Homo sapiens: one gene and its partners. The protein of the gene in region 4 purifies or fractionates together with the protein of the main gene of each other region. This does not show direct contact. Each region holds a gene or a part of one and is shown on either strand. Other genes may lie near its edges. The genes, in order: SEPTIN8, ABL2, MRPS31, AXL, OAT, ACBD3 and PPP6C.

Region 1 (4,219 bases), on a different chromosome or scaffold from region 4:
AGCTAAGGTTAAAAAGCTAGCAGGATTCCACCAGGAAGGTTTGCCATAGATCCAGCTACCCTAACCACTGCTCTGCTCTATTTCTTGTAGATAACTTTAATACAGCATGGGAAACAGCAACATAGAGAGAGGAGCAAAGTGAAAACATTGTCAGGAAGGTCCAGCGGGAAGTCAGTCCACCTTGGGGACAAGCTACAGTTTGCCTGGGAGAGTGAGGAGGGGAAAGCCAAATCAGGGTGACAAGGTCAAACAGCAGAGAGGGGGCTCCTCTTAAGCCAGGTGTGCTAAGTCGAACGTGGTCTTTAGGCACCTCCAGTCAGCACAAGTTTCTGAGTAGGAGAAACAGGTCAGGTTGCTTCTCAGCATACTGGGGTGAGGGGTGTGTGTGGAGGGTGGACCAACCTGGGATGAGGCCAGTGGGGGGTAGGGGGCAAACCTTGCCACATTCCCAGAAAGAGCAGAGAGAAAGGCAGAGGGAAGAGAAAGAAACGGGGTTTCAGAGGATTTGGGAGCTGCTTTTGTATAGATTGTCAGTGAGAAGGATACAGAACCTCCTGAGGCCTCCGACCCTGGCGTAAGTGTTAATTTTCTGAACGTTTTGAGCAGTGACATTAGCGGAGAGAACGTGCACGCACTGGGAGTGGTCATCCTCTTTGCACAATGGTGGAACCATTAAGACGTTGTCCCAAGCCCTTGGGACAGGCAGGGTGATGGACACTTGCAATCTGACGCCTTGACCGTCGAGCTCCGCTTTTCTATTGCAGGAATCCCAGCCTAAACTGCGCATCCTGCTCGTTGGTTGCACAAGGAGCCGAAGGCTGGTCCCTTGCCCGGGAAGGCCGCCTGGCCGGACGCGCGGGTCCCGCCGGGGTTCCCGCCTTAGCTCCGGCCGGAGCATCAGGTGGGGCCCAAGACACCCGCAGACTAGGCTGCCGCGGCCTCTCCCGGATCCGACGGGTCTCCCGCAGCTTGTCCACACTCTGGTTGGTGGTCCCAGCACATTTGCAGGCTCCAGCGGGTGGAGACGGCTTGGTGGGGGAGATCTCTAGGGCGCACGCCGTGCCCCACTTCCCCCTTACGGGAAAGGCTTTCCAGCGCGCGGACCCAGGAGACTCTCACCTAGGCTCGGCCCCAGGCTCCAGGGGACACGCAGAGGCCCGCCGGGCACCAGCCCCGAGCCCCCCGACACTGCCGTCCCGGTCCCCCAACGCGCGGACTACAAGTCCCAGCAGTCCCCGCAGCTGGCACCTCCCGCCTCGCCGCGGAGACCCCCGGCCGTCCAAGCGGCGGGGCTCCGGCTGCGCTCGTGGCCGGGCCGGGCGGGGAGGCCGGTCCCGCGGGCGGGGGCAGGGGCGGCTCCGCGGCTTCTCCCGCCGCCGCCGCCAAGGGGAGTTTCCAGGAAGTGGCCATATTGGATCCATTCAGCCGCAGCCGCCCGGGCGGAGCGCGTCCCGCAGCCGGCTGGTCCCTGTCGCTGCCCCTGCGCTCGTCCCAGCCCACCCGCCCGGTGCGGAGCTCGCCATGGCGGCCACCGACCTGGAGCGCTTCTCGGTGAGGGCCCCGCTGGGCCACGGCGCGCGCGGGAGGCGCGGGGCGCAGGAGGGGCCGCCCTGCAGCTGGCGGGGGGCGCGAAGCGGGCTGTCAGCGCCTCACGGCCGGGCCTCGACACCGGGCCAGCTCGAGGACCCCGGCGCGGGCTCTCGGCCGCGCTATCGGGGGGTCCCGGAGCGTCGGGCGGCCTGCCTTGCCGGGCGGCTGGTCGGGGTCGCTTCCTGGGGCGCAGGCAAGGCTAACCCCTTTCGCGGGAAGGAGCAAAGACCCGCCTGGCTCCGGGCAGGTGCGAAGATAGAGTGGCGCCCGCGGGGCCGCAGGTGAGGGTCCGGGACACTCCGGACCCTATCGCCCAGGGTGTTTCTTTCTGCACACTTGGGGAAGAGTCCTAGCCGCACAGGTGCTGCGGGATAGGTACAGCCGGGGAGGATGGAGGCCCCAGGATCCGAGAGAGTCTCCCACACGAGCCCAGGACAGTTGCAGACTTGAGTCCTGAAGACCCTTGGCCTGCTTTTCCTTCCTCCCCCGCTCCCCTCTGCCCCGCTCCCCACGCCGGAATCCTGGGTGCGACTCCAGGCAGGTCAGGCCTCAGTGGTCGGGTCTGCGGCAGCCATTCGCCAGGAGCTGGAGGGATTCCAGACTCAGCCCAGTGGGCGTTTATTTGGGCTCCAGTCCAGGTCCTCAGAAGGTTGATGTCCCTGGTGGTCCCTGCAGGGGTCTCACTGGGCCTGAGCCTGCCGACAGCCAACTTACTAAAGGCTTTCATAATTCACTCGCGGGAGGGAGGCCTTTGGGGGGTTGTATCTGGACATCCCCTGCTGTCTAAGGCTGGATCTGGGTGTGTCTGGGAGGCTAGGCTGTGACAGTGAAGGAAGCTGTGTCCTCTTGCCAGCATGTAAGGCCCTGGTCGGCTGGAAGGGGGAGGAGGGGGAGAAGGAGGAGGAGGAGGAGGGAGGCCCAGGGCTGTTGGAGGGAAGGGGGAATTCTGAATATGTGAACGATAACGAATTGGTTCTGGGGCTAAATAAGGGAGCCAGGACTTATGTAATTAATGCTATAAATACCGTCATCCCAATTTATATATGTAAATTTTCCATTTAATCTGAAAATACATTTCTTATTCTACTTTGGAAATGTGCATGACTAAAGCAGGAGCTCTTGGTTTCATAATTTCTAGACTCGGGTGTTTTATTCCCATTGGAGAGGGGGTCGTATGTCAGTTAAGTAAGTTTAAATACATGAGGAACAGATTCAGAGGCTGGGCTACTCAGAGATTCACTTCGCCCCGTATTATAAATTGGAATTTATGTACCGGAGGAGGGCAGTGCCTGAATCCTAACAGACCTGCTGATTAGCTGGAGGCCAAGAGACCCGTGAGTGCCTGGGTGTCTCTGCATGTGTGTCTGTGTGCATTTTCTGTGCCCAGCTGACCAGAAAGTTATGTCTGGGTCTTGTCTGTGGCCAGAGGTTTAACAGTTGATGTTGCAGGTGGGAGAGGTATGTAGAGAAACCAGAATCAGACAGCCTGATAGGAATCCTAGACACTCCTTGTTGGCCATGTGACCTTGGGCAGGTTATTTAACCCCTTGGTGCTCTCATGCGTATAATGGGATAGAAATATTTCTTCCCTCATAGGGGTATTGTGAGGATTCAACAAGAGAATCCAGGGGAGGTACTTAGCCCTGTGTCTGGCACATGGTAAGGACACAATAAATAATATATGCTACCTATTGTCCACGTGGATGTGAGGACTGGCCCCCTATGTAAGAAGGGAGCAGAGGATGCATTTGCCCTGTTCATGGCACTCTCTGTAGAGCTTCCATCCCTGCTCGTCCAGAGATGGTCCTCAGAGGGTTAGCTGAGAGGCCATGCTGTGGGCTGGTCAAGCCTTCCCCTGGGGTCCTGTGTTTGCTCTCGGACCATTCCTGTGAGGAGTTTTGGTATTAGCTGCGGGGTGGCCAGGGCACAGAGAGGGGACTGACTCAGGCAAGGGCGTAGAGCCTGAGCGCAGGGCCTTGGTTGCTATGCCAGCTTCAGCTGGAGGGATGGACACCTTCCACACCCTCTGCACTTTGGGCTGTCAGCCTCCTGGAAGGGCTTGGATAGGGTTGGATTTGGGTGGAGACCTTGGGTGGAGTTTGGCCTGAATTTAAGTCTGGACTCCATTCACCCTTCCTGGCTTGTCATCTTGGGAAAATCATTTCTGCCTTTATCTTGCTGTAAAATGGGCAGAGCCACACTGGTTCCTCAGAGAGTTTATGGAGGGTTAATTGCAGTCCGTGGCATGTTTGGAAATATGCTGAGGTGTCTCGCAAGCCCCAGGATGTGATGGAGCCATGACAGGTCTACACTGTCCCTCTGGCCAGCTCAGTGGTCAGTCTAGCCCTGCAGGCCTGAGAATTGTCCTGACCTGGAGCTTAGACGGCATACAGAGTTGTACTTTGAGATGGATGTGTGCTGGGTTCCTGTGTCCTCACATAGCATGGTGTACACACCACAGGCCAACAGCCTTGGCATCCTGACTGGGCTCTGCTCCACCCTAGATCAGTATTGGGGTAAGGGTTGGCATCCCCTGTGTGTGGGTGTGTGGAGCAGCCCTCTGAGGAGGGTGTGTTGCCTCTTGCCTTCCTCGGGCAGCCAGATTCCTGTCCACTCTTGCTGTGCCCCT
Region 2 (3,500 bases), on a different chromosome or scaffold from region 4:
CCTCAGAAATGTGTGCATTTTCCCACCAGGCTAACAGTGGCTACCTCTGCACCACATCACTGATTTCCTGTACACATGACAATAAGTTATTAAGGACAGGGTTTGTCCCGGGCACACCAGCAGCTGCTGAAGAAACCTGTAGCTCCTGCAGGCTGAGTTCCAGTTTGCTCACAGCCTCTCGGAAGGCAAATTTGTTGCGAGTTTGAGGGATGCAGTCCACATAGCCTGAGCAGTAGTCAAGCAGCTGGTGTCCAGTGTCTACCAGCTGGCTGTTGGGCACAGGTTCCGTGAGTGCACTGGACAGTAGGTCAGCACATTCCAGCAGGGCCTCTTTGCTGATTTTGTCTGCTGAGATTTTCTCAGCGGCCTGTTTGGTTTTTCTCAGAGCCACTTTAGTACCTGCTGTGCCATTGGCCATTTTGGCTGGCGAGATGGAAGATGTGGGCAGAGGCACTTGAGGTGGAGGCATCACTGGCCTCCCAGCTTTCCCACTGATGGGCACTGCGCCCAGAGCTGCCTTCTTTCCTCCTTCCTGTGTTTCTGATGTGGACTGTCCTGCAGTTAGGGCAGTTGGCTCTTCTGTAGGGTCTGAGCAGATGGACGGATGCTGCAGTAGTCTCATCACTGGTGGTGGGGGTGGGGCACACTTTGGTTTTACCCGTCGGGGTCGGTCCTTGTCTCCAGAGGATGTGACCTGATGCTCAGATAAGAGCTTGAATTTATTCCCCTGAGAGTCTGTGCCAATGAGCTGCACGTCAGCTGGAGTGTGTTTCAGAGTGGGTGAGATAAGGACTGGCACTTTGTGGTTGTGAGTGGTTGGGAGGACGGGGGCAGCCTTGGCTGGAGAAGGCCAGCCCGGCTGCTCTCCATCCTCTGGAACTCCAGCCATCCCAAGTCGTGCCCCACCATTCTTCTCTTTACCCTTGGGGGCAGCTGCCACTCCAGCCACTCCCACCCCTGGAGGGTCCTTCTCTGTAATGGCTAGATCCCCAGAGGGTGTTCTGAGAGGAAGAGCTGTGGCTCCTCTGGGCAATAACTTGGCTTTTGGTCTCTCCCTGCTTGGAGCAGCACTTTCCTCTGATTTTTTTGGAAGCATGTCATTGGCCCTGTCCACATTCTCTTCTGGCTGAGAAGAGGTGGACACTGTCCTTTCCAGCTGGAGTTTGGACCTCTGGCAGTTCCTGGGAAGGGTCATTGCCATCCTATCCTGCTCTGGAAGCCCTGAGGACATGGAAGATGTAGAGTTTGACCTTGGAAAAGGCTTGGAAGTGTCATCACTGGCTGTGGGTTTACCTGCTCGTAAGCCCAGTGTCTTTTTGATTAAGCGTGGTGTAAAGAAGCCTGTGATGCCAGACCACCCACCCCCAGCAGTGCCACTGCCCCCACCCCCACCACCGTCGTCATTACAGAGGTTCCTCTGTGCAAAGCTCCCCCCATAGCACTTGGGTGGCACCAGATTCGCCTCTTGCTGGGCAGGAGTGAAAGAGAACCCATCAGCATGCTGTAGAGAAGCAACAGATGAGAAGTTACCCGTGAGTTCGTATTTCTTATGGGGCTGATTCTCCATTTCTCGGAAGGAGCTGCTGCGTTTGGGGGGTGTAGGAGCATTTCTCTTCTTCATGAAGGAGCTGAAGAAGCCCCCCTTCCTATCCCTGGTGAAGCATGTCTCTTTGGCATCTTCCAAGAGGCTGCTGGGTGACTTGTCTCTTTGCTTTCGAGGCAGTGCTGGGGATCCACTAGAGGCCTGTGCACCTCTGATGAACCCTGATGAGAAATGGCCGATCAGTAACTTAAAAGACAAGAAGTGAATCTATTACATTTGAGTTACCGAGGCTGCATTATGAGTTTTGTCAGCATTTATCAAAGGTCAGGTGTTGGCAGGACTCAGAAGCAAATAATAAATACATTATCATTTCACAGTGACTGGTGTTCCAAATGTGATGTAAGTTAAAAATGGGGGAAGATAGGGGGCCGGGCACGGTGGCTCACGCCTGTAATCCCAGCACTTTGGGGGGCTGAGGCAGGAGGATCAGGAGGTCAGGAGATCAAGACCATCCTGGCTAACACGATGAAACCCCATCTCTACTAAAACTACAAAAAATTAGCTGGGCATGGTGGCGGGCGCCTGTAGTTCCAGCTACTCGGAAAGCTGAGGCAGGAGAATGGCGTGAACCCAGAAGGCGGAGCTTGCAGTGAGCCGAGATCGCACCACTGTACTCCAGCCTGGGCGACACAGTGAGACTCCGTCTCAAAAAAAAAAAAAGAAAAAAAAAATGGGGGAGGAGATAACCTGCTGGTTATTACCTCAACACTCATCCTTTCTTTAAAAACCACTGCGCAACCTCTTCTCCTCTATCGGGTTCAGCGAAGTTTTTGATGGAACTGTAAAGATGATACATACTTGGGAACCCAGGGGTACGGAGATGAAACTGGAGCCAGAGTTGTATGTTGGATGGATAGCCAAGGGCTTCATGGGTGGGTAAAAGAGACGCCATGCTTTCCCCAGGGAGGACGGGCATGAAAGTGGACATAAAAGCCTCACACCCCATGCTTCTTTAAACAAGGCAGTTTCTATTTTGATTCTACCTGCTAAGGGACCCATACCTGGTGCTAAACTGGAAGCAGAATTTTCTGTGGCATCTTGTGCCCCTTCAATGTTCTCCTTGTTCTCCACCTGTTTCTTCAGTGTCCGAGTCTTGGAAGGAAGTATAGGTAGCCGGGGCAGGTATGGAACAACAGATGACGAGGAGGCGGCTCTCCCAAGCTCCTCAGCTACCTCTGTGAGGAAGACAAGGGGACCAATAAAAAGAACAATTTCATAGCAGAAAAAGGGAGTTCTTTTCAGAAAAGGCACACAACTGAGAAAGAACTGGCAAGTAGAGTACTAAAATACATACACGGAATCATAAAGTATGTACTCTTTTGTCTGGCTTCTTTCGCCCAGTATCATGTGTGTAGATTCGTCCACGCTGCTGCATGTGGCAGGGGTTCTCATTGCTGTGTAGCATGCCAACGTGTGAATATACCACAATCCACCTGTTCTCCTCTTGATGGATGTTTAGGTTGTTTCCAGTTTGGAGTTACTATGAATACGTTGCTAGCATCATCCTGCTCTGTGTCTTTTGGTTCACAATGTTATGCACGTCTGATTGGCACAATGTAGGAGAACTGGTGGATCACAGGGTATACGTGTATTCAGGTTTATTAGGCCCTGCCAACCTGTCCCCAAATAGCGATACTATTTTGCATGAAAGCTGTGGTTACTCTGCATGCTTGCTAAAATTTGATGTTATTATTTTTGGCTTTTTTTTTTTTTTTTTTTTGCAGATGGAGTCTCACCCTGTTGCCCAGGCTGGAGTGCAATGGCGTGATCTCAGCACACTGCAACCTCTGCCTCCGATGTTCAAACGATTCTCCTGTCTCAGCCTCCCAAATAGCTGGGATTACAGGAGCCCGCCACCACACCCAGCTATTCTTTGTATTTTCAGTAGAGATGGGGT
Region 3 (2,282 bases), on a different chromosome or scaffold from region 4:
GTGACTACAGGTGCATGCTACCACGCCCGGCTAATTTTTTAATTTTTTGTAGAGACAGGGTCTCCCTATGTTGCCCACGCTGGTCTCAAACTCGTTGGTTTAAGTGATCTTCCTGCCTCGGCCTCTCAAAGTGCTGGGATTATATGCATGAGCCACTGTGCCCAGCCCTCAATCCTTTGAATTGTATGAAAGTTGAGTCACGCTGCTCAGCAGCATAATGGAAAAGAAATAATTCTAACTTTGGCATGAAGACCTAAAGTACTAGAATGGATTAGAATAAACCCTTTATTTCTACAAGATTAATTTCTCTATAGTGACCCAGACTTAGGTGAGGGTAGTTAATTTAGTGTAAAATATATGTATAAATGTAAACAAATAAACGTATGTACATATATATCTGTCTATAAATCATCTCAACTCTTATAACATAGTACTGTGATATCATCCAGTAATTGTATTGTATTTCAAAGAAGTATGGTCACCGAGTGAAAAGAAAAAGGTTAGGAGTTGTTGTCTTAAATGTATTACTAATTCCCAGATATTCTTTTGAACCTATGAATACTGATGATTTTTCTCCATGCAAGAATATTTTTCAGTTACCATCATATTTTTGAAAACAATGTAACATTTATACCAGCCAAATCAAATGTAATAATCAACATAACATATACAAACTCTAGTAAAATTATTTTATTTAGTTGTAATATCCATCTCTAATTGTTTGAAATAAAAATTTCCATGGTCTTAATTGAACTGTATGTTACTTTCTTTTAGAATATCCTTTTTTTCATTAAAATAATTTCTAAACCACTCTATGTGTTCAACCTTCTGTTTAACACTAAGATATGGGTTTTTGGAAAGGCCACAAGTCACCAGCTCCATGAAGTGGCGAATTGGTCCTTGTTTTGGAAAGCTCTCCAGGTGTTTCTCCAGAAATATATGTTCATGAAATTCTGAACCATCATCATCAAAACCTAGGAAATGAGACCAAATACATTACATTATAATTTTAAATACAAAACCTACATCATAAAAATAATATTAATGAGGTAATATAATATTACAGTTTAAGGCATGAACTTTGGAGTTAGACCTAGGTTGCATTTTTTTTTTTTTTTTGAGATGGAGTCTTGCTCTGTTGCTCAGGTTGAAGTGGAGTGGCACGATCTCAGCTCACTGCAACCTCTGCCTTCTGGGTTTCATGCGATTCTCCTGCCTCAGCCTCCCGAGTAGCTGGGACTACAGGCATGTACCACCACGCCCAGCTAATTTTTTTATTTTTAGTAGAGACAGGGTTTCGCCATGTTGGCCAGGCTGGTCTCGAACTCCTGACCTCAAGTTATCTGCCCGCCTCGGCCTCCCAAAGTGTTGGGATTACAGGAGTGAGCCACCACGCCTGGCCCGGAGTTAGATCTAACTTTGCCCACCAATTTAACAACAGTGACTTTGGACTAATTAATTAACTTCTCTGAGCAGCAGATTCCTCAAGCATAATAATGAGAACTAAAATAGCACCTTGCTGGCATTTTTGTAAAGATCAAACAGACACAAACTATATATAAAGTTCATTTACAATGCCTAGCATGCTGTAAATGTTAAAAATGTGGTGGCAAGACCAGGCGTGGTGGCTCACGCCTATAATCCCAGCACTTTGGGAGGCGAGGCAGGCGGCTCACTCAAGGTCAGGAGTTCAAGACAAGCCTGGCCAACATGGTGAAACCCTATCTCCACTAAAAATACCAAAAAAATTAGCCAGGCGTGATGGCATGTGCCTGTAATCCCAGCTACTTGGGAGGCTGAGGTATAAGAATTGTTTGAACCCAAGAGGCAAAGGTTGTAGGGAGCCAAGATCAAGCCACTACACTCCAGCCTGAACAACAGAGTGACACTCTGAATCAATCAATCAATCAATAGGATAGCAATTATTGCCAATGATTATTTTTTTCTTTTGAGATAGAGTTTCACTCTTGTCGCCCAGGCTGGAGTGCAATGGTGCAATCTCGGCTCTCTGCAACCTCCACCTCCCAGGTTCAAGTGATTCTCCTGCCTCGGCCTCCCCAGTAGCTGTGATTACAGGCGCCTGCCACCACGCCCAGCTGATTTTTGTATTTTTAGTAGAGATGGGGTTTCACCATGTTGGTCAGGCTGGCTTGAACTCCTGACCTCAGGTGATCCACCTGCCTCGGCCTCCCAAAGTGCTGGGATTACAGGTGTGAACTACTGCGTCCGGCCGCTAAGGAATATTTTCATAAATAACGGCAACCATCAAGAACACTATAAAA
Region 4 (3,500 bases):
AAAATACAAAAATTAGCTAGGCATGGTGGTGGGCGCCTGTAATCCCAGCTACTCGGGAGACTGAGGCAGGAGAATTGCTTGAACCCGGGAGGCAGAGTCTGCAGTGAGCTGAGATCATGCCATTGCACTGCAGCCTGGGTGACAGTGCGAGACTCCATCTCAAAAAAAGAAAAATATATATATATAAAAAATACTTGACACGGGTATACACATGAATAAGTAACTTTTGTGGATGCATACACATGCTCACCATCACACACATATACACACTTCATGGACACATGAGCTCATGTGCCACTCTGCACACCCTGGCTGTCCACATTCTATGAGTGTGCGCACATGCACGCATAATCACTGCAGCTTCTTCTAACCTAAACTGTCTACATTGCTACCATGCACACGTGGGCCTGTATTTATCCTGGGCATGTACACACCACTATTCAGAGATGCCCACCATACCCCAAGACATGCCCAGCCCATGTGGACAAGCCCCTGCAAAGGGAAGCCCACATGTCCCTGTGACCCTTGCATCCACAGCCACCCAGGCATAGTGTGTGATGGTCAGGCCATGCCCTCCCATGGTTCCCCACTCTTGGCGGGAGTGCACCTACCACATCGCTCTTGCTGGTGTAGACACGGTCAGCTAGACTCTCAATGGCAATCCACTTGACTGGCATCTTGGCGATACGTCCCTGGCGGTAGTAGTCCCCATTGTAGATCTTCTTGGAGAGCCCGAAGTCCGCCACACACACGGACATGTTCTCATTCAGCCTGTTTGGATTGGGGAAAGGAACAGGGTCAGGGCATCAGTCACCTCCACCAGGAAGCCTGCCCTGGCTCTCAGACACATCTGCACCTCCTCCCCTCACTGTCCTGGCTGCGGGTGGGGATCTGTCTCCTAAACCTTCATCCCAGTCCAGAAGGGAACTGCTTTACTTCTTGTTCACTCTGTCAAGTGAGGATGGGACAAAGGGCTTCCTCAGGACTTCCCAATTTTGGCTCTTTGCTAGATTCTAAGGTCCTTCCTTGGGTTTGATTCCTTGATGAAATTTTTTTTTCTTGAAGTATACTGTACATATGGAAATGTGCACAAGTCATAAGTAAGCAGCTCACTGAATTTTCACACACACACACACACACACCCATGTAACCAGCACCCAGATTAAGAAACAGAACATGGCTGGGCATGGTGGCTGGCGCCTGTAATCCCAGCACTCTGGGAGGCCAAGGCAGGTGGATCACTTGAGGTCAGGAGTTTGAGACCAGCCTGGCCAATGTGGTGAAACTCTGTCTCTACTAAAAGTACAAAAATTAGCCAGGTGTGTTGGTGCACATCTGAAATCCCAGCTACCTGGGAGGCTGAAGCAAGAGAATCAGTTGAACCCAGTAGGCGGAGGTTGCAGTGAGCTGAGATCACGCCACTGCACTCCAGCCTGGGCAACAGAGTGAGTGAGACTCCGTCTCAAAAACAAACAAAAAAAAAAACAGGCACAGTGGCTCAAGCCTGTAATTTCAGCACCTTGGGAGGCCAAGGTGGGAGGATCACTTGAGGCTAGGAGTTCAAGACCAGCCTGGAAAACAAAGCAAGACCCTGTCTCTACAAAAAAATTTAAAAATTAGCTGGACATGGTGGCACATGTCTGTAGTTCCAGCTACTTAGGAGGCTGAGGCAGAAGGATAGCTTGAGCCAGGAGTTGGAGGCTACAGTGAGCTATGATCATGCCACTGCACCCCACCCTAAAGGACAGAGTAAGACTCTGTCAAAACAAAAAAGAAAAGAAAGAAAAAAAGGGAAAGAAAGGGAAAGAGAGAGGGAGGGAGGGAAGGAAGGAAGGAAGGAGATAAAGAGAGAGAAAGAGAAAGAAAAGAAAGAAGAAAGGACAGAGAGAAAAAGAAAGAAAAGAAAGAAAAAGAAAGAAAGAGAAAAAAAGAAAAGAAAATCCACAGGACATTCATATGATGGAATACCATACCACACAGCAAAGAAAAAGAGCAAACTACCCCTACACAGATCCATCTCAAAAACATCATGCTGAGCCATAGAAGCCAGACACAAAGCAGTACAAACTGCATGATCCCATTTGTATGACTTTTCAGAACAGGCTAAACTAGCACTGAGAAGTCAGGATAGTGGGTACCACTTGGCGGTAGTGATTGGGAAGACGAAGAGGCATGAAGGAGCCTGCTGGGGCTAAGAAATATTCTTTACCTTCATCTAGTGGTTACATGGGTCTATACCCATAAAAATTCATCGAGCTGAGCTGCATGTGTATATTTTAGTGTATGTAAAATATACATCAATTTTTTTTTAGATGGGATCTTGCCCTGTTGCCCAGGCAGTAGTGAAGTGATACCATCATGGCTGACTTCAGCCTCAACCTCCTGGGCTCTAGCAATCCTTCCACCTCAGCCTCCCAAGTAGCTGGAACCACAGGTATACACCACCATGCCCAGCTAATTTATTTTTTGTAAAGACAGGATTCACTATGTTGCCCAGGCTGGTCTTGAACTCCTGGGTACAAGTGATCCTCCTGCCTCAGCCTCCCAAAGGGCTGGGATTATAGATGTGAGCCACTGCGCCTGGCCAAGACTAATATTCTAACTCTGTGGTTCCATTCCCTCCACCTTCTACCCTCCCCTTACCCTCTATTCTGGCTTTTGGGGGATTTTTTGTTCTTTCTTTTCTTTTTTTCTTTTTTTTTGAGATGGTGTCTCGTTGTTGTTACCCAGGCTGGTCTCGAGGCTCAAGCAATCCTCTCACCTAAGCCTTGGGAATGGCTGGGACTACAGGTTACTATTTTCTTTTTTCTTTCTTTCTTTCTTTCTTTCTTTTTTTTTTTTTTTTTGAGACAGAGTCTTGCTCTGTCGCCCAGGCTGGAGTGCAGTGATGCGATCTCGGCTCATTGCAACCTCCGCCTCCTGGGTTCAAGCAATTCTCGTGTTGGGATTACAGGCGCACACCACCGCACCAGGCTGAATTTTGTACTTTTAGTAGACAGGGGGTTTCACCAAGGCTGGTCTCGAACTCCTGGCCTCAAGTGATCCACCCGCCTCGGACTCCCAAAGTGCTGGGATTACAGGCGTGAGCCACTGCACCCCATCTGGCATATTTTCTGCTTGTCCATTGGTGGGGAGTTTGATTTTCTTATCCAGTGTGGCCGCTTCCAAAGGGCAGCCCCAGGCAAGACACCCAGCATGGAGTGGGACAGAGATGCAGCTCACGTGTCCCCACCCCCATCGGTCACCTCAGCCCCTTTGCTCACCTCATGCTGTGCACTGAGCCCACCTTCTGGTCTCTTCCCTCTCCGCATCCAAATGCTCCTTCCAGATCTCAGTTCAGGACTCACCTCCTCCAGGAAGCCTTCCCAGACCCCCTTACTGACTTTCCTGGTCCTGAGTTCTGACCTGCCCTCAGCGGGTGTCTAGCCCTGCTTCCATCCTAAGAAGGAGGGAGGGAACTCCCTCAGGGAGTGCAGGAGCAGTTGGGGGGGGGGGGTCCC
Region 5 (2,560 bases), on a different chromosome or scaffold from region 4:
GAGACGGAGTCTCACTCTGCCGCCCAGGCTGGAGTGCAGCGGCGCAATCTCAGCTCACTGCAAGCTCCACCTCCCAGGTTCAAGCGATTCTCCTGCCTCAGCCTCCTGAGTAGCTGGGACTACAGGCACCCACCACCTCGCCTGGCTATTTTTTTGTATTTTTAGTAGAGATGGGGTTTCACTGTGTTAGCCAGGATGGTCTCGATCTCCTAACCTCGTGATCCACCCGTCTCGGCCTCCCAAAGTGCTGGGATTACAGGCATAAGACACCGCGCCCGGCCCCTCAGGTGATTCTTTAAGTGCAGCCAAGGTTGGGAGGTTGGAATCGTTGCTTTAAAAGGAAGAGTTATCACAAGAAAATCCAGCAAGGAACACCTAAGGGTTACAAAGGATGTACTAAAACATCAAACACCCAATTAAGTGACAGCCAGCATTATTTTTATTATTGACCCCATAACTGTCATTCATATCATTATTTCTGCTGCTCCTATAACCTCTACTGACACAAAGCATCAAAGTGAGGGAGGGAAGGATAGCAAAGAGGACACTTTCAAGTCCAGACTCACCAACAAAAAAACTTGAACTCTCTAAATACTGCATGACTAATTTAAGGCAGAAAAATAAGTGTCTTAAAGGAACAAGGGTCAAATTGGTTAAATGTGCCTTCATTTAGAAAAGAGCTATATTTTTTATACTCTTAATATAATTATAAATCAGACAATAATCTGTCTAAAAGGTTTGGTCATTATGTCAGTCAGCAGTTTCAAACAGAACATCCCAACACCCAATTAAAATACCAAGTGTGGCCAGGAGCAGTGGCTCATGCCTGTCATCTCAGCACTTTCAGAGGCTGAGGCAGGCGGATCACGAGGTCAGGAGATCGAGACCACCCTGGCCAACATGGTGAAACCCCATCTCTACCAAAAATACAAAAATTAGCTGGGCGTGTTGGCACGTGCCTGTAATACCAGCTACTCGGGAGGCTGAGGCAGGAGAATCGCTTGAACCGGGGCATCGGAAGTTGCAGTCAGCCAAAATGGCGCCATTGCACTCCAGCCTGGCAACAGAGCAAGACTCCATCTTAAAAAAAAAAAAAAAAAAAAAGTGTGGCCGGGCGCGGTGGGCTCACGCCTATAATCCCAACACTTTGGGAGGCCAACGCAGGTGGATCACGAGGTCAGGAGTTTGAGATCAGCCTGGCCAACATTATGAAACCCCATCTCTATTAAAAATATAAAGATTAGCTGGGCGTGGTGACAGGCGCCTGTAATCCCAGCTACTCAGGAGGCTGAGGCAGAGAATTGCTTGAACCCAGGAGGCAGAGTGCAGTGAGCCAAGATTGCGCCACGGCACTGCAGCCTAGGAGACAGAGCAAGACTCCGTCTCGAAAAATAAATAAATTAATTAAATTAAATACCAAGTGTATTTTAGGTCTTCCTTAAAAAATTATCTTGAGTAAATGTTTTATCTCCATACCTTTGGTTTCTTTAATGACAATAGCGTTTAATAATCCTTTTCCTCTTACGGCAGTTACAACATCAGAAGGTAGCTTCATGAGTTCATTTCTCAAGATAATGCCCAATTTGTCTGCATTTTCAGCAAGGTTTTCTTCTTCTAAAACCTACGTTTAAAGAAAAATTATACAAATATTAAGACTGTCCTTTTTTTGTTTTTTGGAGGACAACGGGGACTGTAAACACAGGAAAAACATGACTAGATAAAATACCAGAGGAACTTAACTTTCATTGCTATTTTTCAAAGCCTGTATTAGTTTCTAATTAAACATACACTAGCTCAGAGTCTTGCTTTCATCACAAATCTATTGCCAATCATTCATGGCAAAATAAGGATTAAAGTTTATTTAATGCAACTCACATACTGTCATTAATTGAATACATCAATGGACGAAATGTAATTCCTAAACTGCAATAGTTTCTTCCCCCCTCACAAAGATCTGTCCTCAGAGATTACATAATAATTGTATACCTTCAGCAGGCACTTAAAAAATCAGTCTGAAAACATTATAAATCCACACTTGAAAGAAGACTTGCTTGCTAAGCAAAAAGACGGGTCTGGTAGGTGGGTCACAGTTGAGAGTTCTATGAGGGCCAGCCAGGGCCGAAGAACTCAAAGCGCCAGGTGACTGTGAACTCAGGAAGCCCACGGAGGAAATCCAGTCTACTAGGCCAAGTTTAAATTACTTTTTGAGAATATCTTGTTCCTAAAATTTTTCCTCTATACTTCATGTTTTCTAATATTTGGCATTCTTATTGAATTTTTTATTATACCAGTGGGCCCAAATTAAAAATCACTTCAACATTGCTTTAAAGAATAGACACTGTGTGGCTGTATCAGTCTTTACCTCAAGGGCTGCGATGGCCACTCGGCAGCCTAGTGGATTGCCACCGTATGTGGACCCATGCTCCCCTGGCTTAATGGTCAGCATGATGTCATCATCACACAGCACTGCAGACACCTGAAAGACAGTCAATTCACCATGTCATTTCTCAGCACTAAGCATTCTACTAAGCATCCTTTTCCCCAGAGTCTCGCTGTCACC
Region 6 (3,500 bases), on a different chromosome or scaffold from region 4:
ATTGCCTAGCATATACTAACTGCTTAGTAAAAGTTTTAAGACTTCCCCTCCATTAACTCAAAACATCCATAATCAATTCTCAGAAGTACCTCCTTTTCAACAACATAAGCAGCCACAAAAATACCAATAGCCAGGCATTCTGCTAAGAGTTTATATATATAATTTCTTATAATTCCTAAAACAACCCTTTGAGTACAGGAAAGCACAAAAAGTTAACAAAATTAAGTGGCAGAGCAAGGAAAACACACCCTAAAGAGTGTTGACTCCAGAGCTTACCTTTCTAAATACTGATTCACAGTAGCTCTTGTATTAGTTAACTGATAAAACATCTGCTCCTGGGCATTGGCTACACTGTCCACTTTCTGAAAACTCATCAAGCTACACACTTAGTATTTGTGTACTTTAGTGCACTGCATGTGTGATAAAGGGAAGCCTCGGGAAAATGTTAAAATCACTTACATTAAAAACATATACACACTGGGCACAGTGGCTCACGCCTGTAATTCTAGCACTTTGGGAGGCCAAGGCAGGTGGATTACCTGAGGTCAGGAGCTCGAGACCAGCCTGACTAACATGGTGAAACCCTGTCTGTACTAAAAATACAAAAATTAGCTGGGCGTAGTGGCATGTGCCTGTAATCCCAGCTACTCGGGAGGCTGAGGCAGGAGAATTGCTTGAACCCAGGAGGCAGAGGCTGCAGTGAGCTGAGATCGCGCCATTGCACTCCAGCCTCGGTGACAGAATGAGACTCCATCTCAAAAAAAAAAAAAAAAACAATGACAACAACAACACATACACATTCCTGAATCCAGTCAAAGGAAAGTTTTGGTTCAGCTCAAATTTAACATGAACTTGGTGGCTATAATTGTTTTTCTGTCTTACATCTGTCTCTCTTAGGTCTATATATCCTCCTACAGTATTACATACTTATGTCTAAAGGTAAAGATAATAAAAGGGAAAAAGAACTCTAATAGATGTTCCATAGTAACAAACTTGAAATTATCTGAGGATAGACCACTGAAGTCCAGGAGGCACACTAATTATATATGTTTCCAATGAATAAATTACAGCTGTACAGTATTTTAAAACATTAAGGAAGCCATTTATAAATGCTCTTGTAGTTGCCTATGTTTAAAGAAGACAAGAGGAAATGGAACCATTTCAGTTGTCCATTTGTTTGCTATCATTAATATAATTCTCTCCCAACATATAATACTCTACTATCAGTAACACAATTGGGTATAATCAATAGCAATGCTAGTAGAACTATTCCATAAAGAAAATGAGTCCAAGACTTACCTTCCAAATAACTGAGGGGCCTGAGGCAGGATCCTTAACTCAGAAATGGGATTAATACCCTTACAGAAGGCCTCTTGGAGGATTAAACAAAATAATGTACATACAGTTTTTGGCATAGTACCTGAGATTTAGTAAACATCTACTCAATAACTATTGACAATTATTACTCTGAAATCTTAAATTAATGTAAACAATCTACCAGCTTAATGTAATACAGTAATAAAGTATTAGAGAAGGAAAAGTCCACCCCAAAGAACTCTAAAAACCAAAATACAATTCCCCAGGTCAACTCCATCCAAGAAGTATAAAGGTCATAATAAAATGAACCCACTGGATTCCTGTGGGTCCTTAACCCATGGAGATAAGAAAACCTAGCTTAACATTGTTAAAATAGAACTGGGCAACTCTGGCCGGGCGTGGTAGCTCATGCCTGTAATCCCAGCACTTTGAGAGGCCAAGGCGGGTGAATCGCTTGAGCTCAGGAGCTAAAGACCAGCTGGGCAACAAAGCAAGACCTCTGTCTCTACAAAAAATACAAAAATTAGCCGGGCATGGTGGCTCGTGCCTGTGGTCCCAGTCACACAGGAGGATGAGGTGGGAGGATGGCTTGAGCCTGGGAGGCATAGGGGGCAGTGAGCCAAGATCGCACTACTGCCCTCTAGCCTGCATAACAAAACCAGACTGTCTAAAAAAAAAAAAAGAATTGAGCAACTTTGCTCCTCCCTTTAAAAACCTCCAGTGGTTCCTCATCTTCTAATTTACTGACAAAAAGGCCGAACTATTAATACTTACATGGCCAGGCGCGGTGGTTCACGCCTGTAATCCCAGCGCTTTGGAAGGCCGAGGCGGGGAGATCATTTGGGGTCAGTCCAAGACCAGACTGGCCAACATGGTGAAACCCCATCTCTATTAATAATACAAAAATTAGCTGGGTGTGGTGGCACAAGCCTGTAAGCTCAGCTACTCACGAGGCTGAGGCAGGAGAATCACATGAACCCAGGAGGCAGAGGTTGCAGGGAGTGGAGATCATGCCACTGCATTCCAGCCTGGGTGACATAGCAAGACTCCGTCTCAGAAAAAAAAAATGACAATGGCATGCAAGTCCTTCCAAGAATTGAACTCAGTTACCTTCCCAGCTCTCTCCATCAAACTGCTTTCTATTTTCCATTTTGCAAACAGACATGCTTTGACTTCTCATGGCTTTCATGGCTCTTGGCCTTCCCCCCTCTGGAATGGCATCTGCTCCCTCAGTCCTCCACACTGTACTGCAGTTGTCACTGGGTCCTTAACTCCTCTTTTGGACTCTAAGCAAAAGATAACGTACTATTCATTTATAGTTGTAACCTAATATAAAACTATCCATACTGAAAAGTCAATAATGTCTGAAATTTAGATGGTAAAATGCTAACTTACATTTACCCACATCTTCATCTATTTTACTTTTACTGTCATAAAAAATTAAGAATAGTTGACGTAATTGATTCAGTCACTGGCCTATTACCACCCTGACAAGGATGGAATAAGAAATAGGGCTTGTCATTTCCAACCCAAGCTATTTGCAATGGAAAAATATATCCATGCTTTCAAGATTCGTATTTATTCCACAGTGGAAGAGAAAATGTAATGTTCTTTCCTTTATTTATTTATTTTTTTGAGATGGAGTCTTGCTCTGTTGCCCAGGCTGGAGGGCAGGGACGAAATCTTGGCTCACTGCAAGCTCCGCCTTGAGGGTTCAAGTGATTCTCCTGCCTCAGCCTCCCAAGTAGCTGGGACTATAGGCGCCTGCCACCACGCCCAGCTAATTTTTTTATTTTTTTATTTTTAGTACAGATGAGGTTTCACCGTGTTAGCCAGGGTGGTCTCGATCTCCTGACCTTGTGATCCACCCGCCTCGGCCTCCCAAAGTGCTGGGATTACAGGCAAAAGCTACCACACCCGGCCGAAAATGTAATGTTATTTCTAATTCTCGTGAGATACTGGTATAAAACCATAGAATAGCGATTAAAAGTCCCAGCAAGACTGACAAAACACCATGTGTTCCACCAGAAAAATCCACACATTAAAACAAAGGTGCCGGGCACGGTGGCTCACGCCTATAATCCCAACACTTTGGGAGGCCAAGGTGGGCAGATCACCTGAGGTCGGCAGTTCGAGACCAGCATGGAGAAACCCCGTCTCTACTAGAAATACAAAAGTACCTG
Region 7 (3,500 bases), on a different chromosome or scaffold from region 4:
CTTGATGATTCTGTGAGCCTTGCAGCTTTAACTATAGCTCAGCTGTTACAAGATTTCAGACTTTTGAGGATGTTGTGTGGGGGTGTTTGACTGTGACTGGAGAAGCTCAGACTACTCTGCATGTGAATGCTTCAGGGTTTTCTTTGTTGAGAACAACCAGCAGCAAAGCCAACCCATGTGTGAGCAGTTCTCCCCAAGGTCTATGCTAAATTATGGCAAGAGCCCTGGGCAACCCCAAACCTAGTCCCGGTGGCTGAGCACCCTGTAAGGCAGGAGTAGGCAGTTGGGCTTGAGCAGCCATGGGGTAGGGGGTGGGGGGTGGTTGAGGGGGGAGGCAGCACAGCGCAGCAAATGTTTCTTGGGAGGAAGAAGCCTGATCCATCATCATCTGCTTGACTATGTAGCTTGGATTCTCTTTTGTACCTACTCCTTTGATTTGGCTTTACCTTCATCCATCTTGATCCTTTCCTGGCCAAAGATCCTCTTGGGCCCAAATGAACACTGTACCGTAGTCTTCTGGAAAGCAAATGTGCTTCCTGCTATGTAATCGCTAACATTCACATTACATGATTTGCTGTAGCTTGATCTTCCTTAGCCTACTACCACTGTGGCAGTAGGTTTTAGGTGGTATCATAGTGCCTTTTGATTAATTTAAGTATTTAATTTTCATCTTCTTTCTTTGGATCTATTTGGCTTTTCAAATGAACAGAGATTTCTGTTAAAAAGAAAAAAAAGATTTGACGTAGGCTGGGCGCGGTGGCTCACGCCTGTAATCCCAGCACCTTGGGAGACCAAGGTGGGCAGATGACCTGAGGTCAGGAGTTCAAGACCAGCCTCACCAACATGGTGAAACCCCGTCTCTACTAAAAATACAAAATTAGCCAGGCGTGGTGGTGTACACCTGTAATCCCAGCTACTCGGGAGGCTGAGACAGGAGAATCGCTTGAATCCAGGAGGCAGAGGTTGCAGTGAGCCGAGATTGCACCATTGTACTCCAGCCTGGGCAACATGAGCGAAACTCTTGTCTCAAAAAAAAAAAGATTCATGTTATTGTCTCTTGTAGAGGAAACTAATAAAGTGTCTGTATCTGTGTGATTTGAGGTCTTTGAGAAAAAAAAAAAAAAGTATTGCCTATCTTGGTCTTGCCATTTTGTTACTTAACTACAGTACTTGAAAGGAAAGGGGCTGGCCGGGTGCGGTGGCTCACACCTATAATCCCAGCACTTTGGGAGGCTGAGGCGGGTGGATCACCTGAGGTCAGGAGTTCAAGACCAGCCTAGCCAACACGGTGAAATCCCATCTCTACTAAGAATACAAAAATTAGCCAGGCATGGTGGCGCACACCTGTGGTCCCAGCTACTCAGGAGGCTGAGGCAGGAGAATGGCTTGAACCTGGGAGGCAGAGGTTGTTGCAGTGAGCCAAGATCACGCCACTGCACTCCAGCCTAGGCGACAGAGCAAGACTCCATCTCAAAAACAAAAAAAAAAGGAAAGAACATTTACTTTATACATTATTACCAAATGGATGCTGGAGTAGGTGCTTTCACTGTGTCATCTTATTTAACCATTAAAGAAAGACATACGTTAATAACTAAACTAGAAATTTAATATCCACAGCCACCATATTTTGAGTAAGCTAGACTACAAGTTTGTTATCTAGGGCCACCATAGTTCTCTATGCAGCCCATTAGCAATCCACAAATTACATTTCCAAAAATGTTGGCTTTACCTCATTTGTGACCTTTGCTCCAAAAAGCCAACCTGCTCCTCGGGGACTGATAGCCCAGGTATCCACATCTTCAGGATCTGACCAAACCAGATCACAAAATGCTCCTTTATGAGGAATTTCCTGATTCCGTTCGATGGTTCGAATTTGATCCAGTGTTTTGATATCAGGAGATAAACCACCATGGACACACAAAATCTGCTCATCTATTAACTAGCAAAAAAGGATAACAAAGAGTTGAACATATAACCTCAGGCATATCTAAACTCATCAGTGAATACTAAAGATATCAATATAATTGAGATGACAACTAGATAAAAATATGCAATGTGTTATTGGCAGGAACGTACATGAGACTTTAAAAATAGAAACTTACAGCTGCTACTGTGAGCATGTCAAAAACTTTGGTACAGTATCTCCAGGCATTAGCATTTCCATATTTGGTTTGGCACTCATCTGTGAAAGAAACAGAAGGGTTTTAATTAATGAATCTGCTAATAAAAATAAACAATATATCCAATACTAGAGCAGCCTTCAGTACAACAGAAATTCAGCTTAAACTAGGATAGCAAGATATGACACATATTTAGTCCTGCTAGGACCTCCACATAGAGCCAAAAGAACGCTAGTGACTAACTACATACAGTTGTATGTCCCTTAACCATGGGGATACATTCTAAAAAATGCATTGTTAGGTGATTTCATCGTTGTGTGAACATCATCGGATGTCCTTACATAAACCTAGATGGTCTAGCCTACTACACACCTAGGCAATATGATATAGCCTATTGCTCATAGGCTATAAATTTGTGCAGCATGTAACTGTACTAAATATCATAAGGAAATAGTAACACAATGGTAAGTATTTGTGCAATAGGAATTTTTCAGCTCCGTTTTATCTATGGGACCACTGTCATATATACAGTCCATCATCGACTGAAATGTCATTATGTGGCACATGACTGTATTTCCTAAGGATGTAGTACTGCTCTTCATTCCTGGAATGGACCTAAGAAGCAGCTGAAATTATTAGCCAAAATGCTATCATTAGAAGAGTTAAATACTAATTTCACACAACCTGAAGCAAATGTTTTAACAGTTATGTTAATATTAGGCAATTCTGGTAAGCAGATAAATTTATTTAAGGAGACAATTCTAGCAGGATAAACAGATCAAACAAATTAGAGGATCCTTAGTTATAGGAGCATGAGCAATTCCTAACTCTTCTCAGGGCTAAGTTGTCTCTTCTGAGATTTTCTGCAAATCGTGCGACTAAACACTTGAGCTTCAGTGGATCAAAACTGAGGACAGATTGCCAATCAGGTTCTTACAAATTCTCAGTTGAACACTCTTTCTGCTGCCTACGTAGTTTTTTGTTTTTGAGACAAGGTCTCACTCTATTGCCCAAGTTGGAATACAGTGGCACAATCAGCAGTGGCGCGATCACAGCTCACTGCAACCTCAACCACTTGGGTTCAAGCGATCCCACCACCTCAGCCTTCTGAACAGCTGGAACTACAGGCAAGTGCCACCACACCTGGCTAATTTTATTTCTGGTAGAGATGGGGATCTCCCTATGTTGTCCAGGCTGGTCTTGAACTCCTGAGCTCAAGCAATCCTCCTACCTCAGCCTCCCACAGTGCTGAGAATACAGATGTGAGCCACTGTACCCTGACTGTCTACATAGTTAATAGGGTACACACTTCTTTTGTTAACACCATGGAAGCTCTGTACTTTGGCTTCTTCCATAATTTTAGAAAAAAAAAAACCTGAC

What was found.
Region 1: the proteins of AXL (region 4) and SEPTIN8 purify together in Homo sapiens (affinity purification with mass spectrometry; one large-scale study listed by BioGRID and IntAct). This does not show direct contact.
Region 2: the proteins of AXL (region 4) and ABL2 purify together in Homo sapiens (affinity purification with western blotting, with the first as the bait; one study listed by BioGRID). This does not show direct contact.
Region 3: the proteins of AXL (region 4) and MRPS31 purify together in Homo sapiens (affinity purification with mass spectrometry; one large-scale study listed by BioGRID and IntAct). This does not show direct contact.
Region 5: the proteins of AXL (region 4) and OAT purify together in Homo sapiens (affinity purification with mass spectrometry, with the first as the bait; one large-scale study listed by BioGRID). This does not show direct contact.
Region 6: the proteins of AXL (region 4) and ACBD3 purify together in Homo sapiens (affinity purification with mass spectrometry; one large-scale study listed by BioGRID and IntAct). This does not show direct contact.
Region 7: the proteins of AXL (region 4) and PPP6C purify together in Homo sapiens (affinity purification with mass spectrometry, with the first as the bait; one large-scale study listed by BioGRID). This does not show direct contact.

Annotation. Positions count from the first base shown.
Region 1 is NC_000005.10:132,774,440-132,778,658, reverse strand, and holds the start of SEPTIN8 (septin-8), read left to right. Parts: upstream 1-1,419; 5' UTR 1,420-1,521; coding exon 1,522-1,551; intron 1,552-4,219. UniProt on the Homo sapiens protein: Filament-forming cytoskeletal GTPase. May play a role in platelet secretion. Seems to participate in the process of SNARE complex formation in synaptic vesicles.
Region 2 is NC_000001.11:179,107,678-179,111,177, forward strand, and holds part of ABL2 (tyrosine-protein kinase ABL2), read right to left. Parts: intron 3,169-3,500; coding exon of another isoform or gene 3,128-3,168; exon of another isoform or gene 2,898-3,127; intron 2,779-2,897; coding exon 2,605-2,778; intron 1,765-2,604; coding exon 41-1,764; 3' UTR 1-40. UniProt on the Homo sapiens protein: Non-receptor tyrosine-protein kinase that plays an ABL1-overlapping role in key processes linked to cell growth and survival such as cytoskeleton remodeling in response to extracellular stimuli, cell motility and adhesion and receptor endocytosis.
Region 3 is NC_000013.11:40,728,628-40,730,909, forward strand, and holds the end of MRPS31 (small ribosomal subunit protein mS31), read right to left. Parts: intron 975-2,282; coding exon 745-974; 3' UTR 501-744; downstream 1-500.
Region 4 is NC_000019.10:41,253,723-41,257,222, reverse strand, and holds part of AXL (tyrosine-protein kinase receptor UFO isoform 1 precursor), read right to left. Parts: intron 772-3,500; coding exon 612-771; intron 1-611. UniProt on the Homo sapiens protein: Receptor tyrosine kinase that transduces signals from the extracellular matrix into the cytoplasm by binding growth factor GAS6 and which is thus regulating many physiological processes including cell survival, cell proliferation, migration and differentiation.
Region 5 is NC_000010.11:124,399,364-124,401,923, forward strand, and holds part of OAT (ornithine aminotransferase, mitochondrial isoform 1 precursor), read right to left. Parts: intron 2,477-2,560; coding exon 2,363-2,476; intron 1,622-2,362; coding exon 1,477-1,621; intron 1-1,476. UniProt on the Homo sapiens protein: Catalyzes the reversible interconversion of L-ornithine and 2-oxoglutarate to L-glutamate semialdehyde and L-glutamate.
Region 6 is NC_000001.11:226,180,242-226,183,741, forward strand, and holds part of ACBD3 (Golgi resident protein GCP60), read right to left. Parts: intron 1-3,500. UniProt on the Homo sapiens protein: Involved in the maintenance of Golgi structure by interacting with giantin, affecting protein transport between the endoplasmic reticulum and Golgi. Involved in hormone-induced steroid biosynthesis in testicular Leydig cells.
Region 7 is NC_000009.12:125,151,804-125,155,303, forward strand, and holds part of PPP6C (serine/threonine-protein phosphatase 6 catalytic subunit), read right to left. Parts: intron 2,183-3,500; coding exon 2,103-2,182; intron 1,940-2,102; coding exon 1,730-1,939; intron 1-1,729.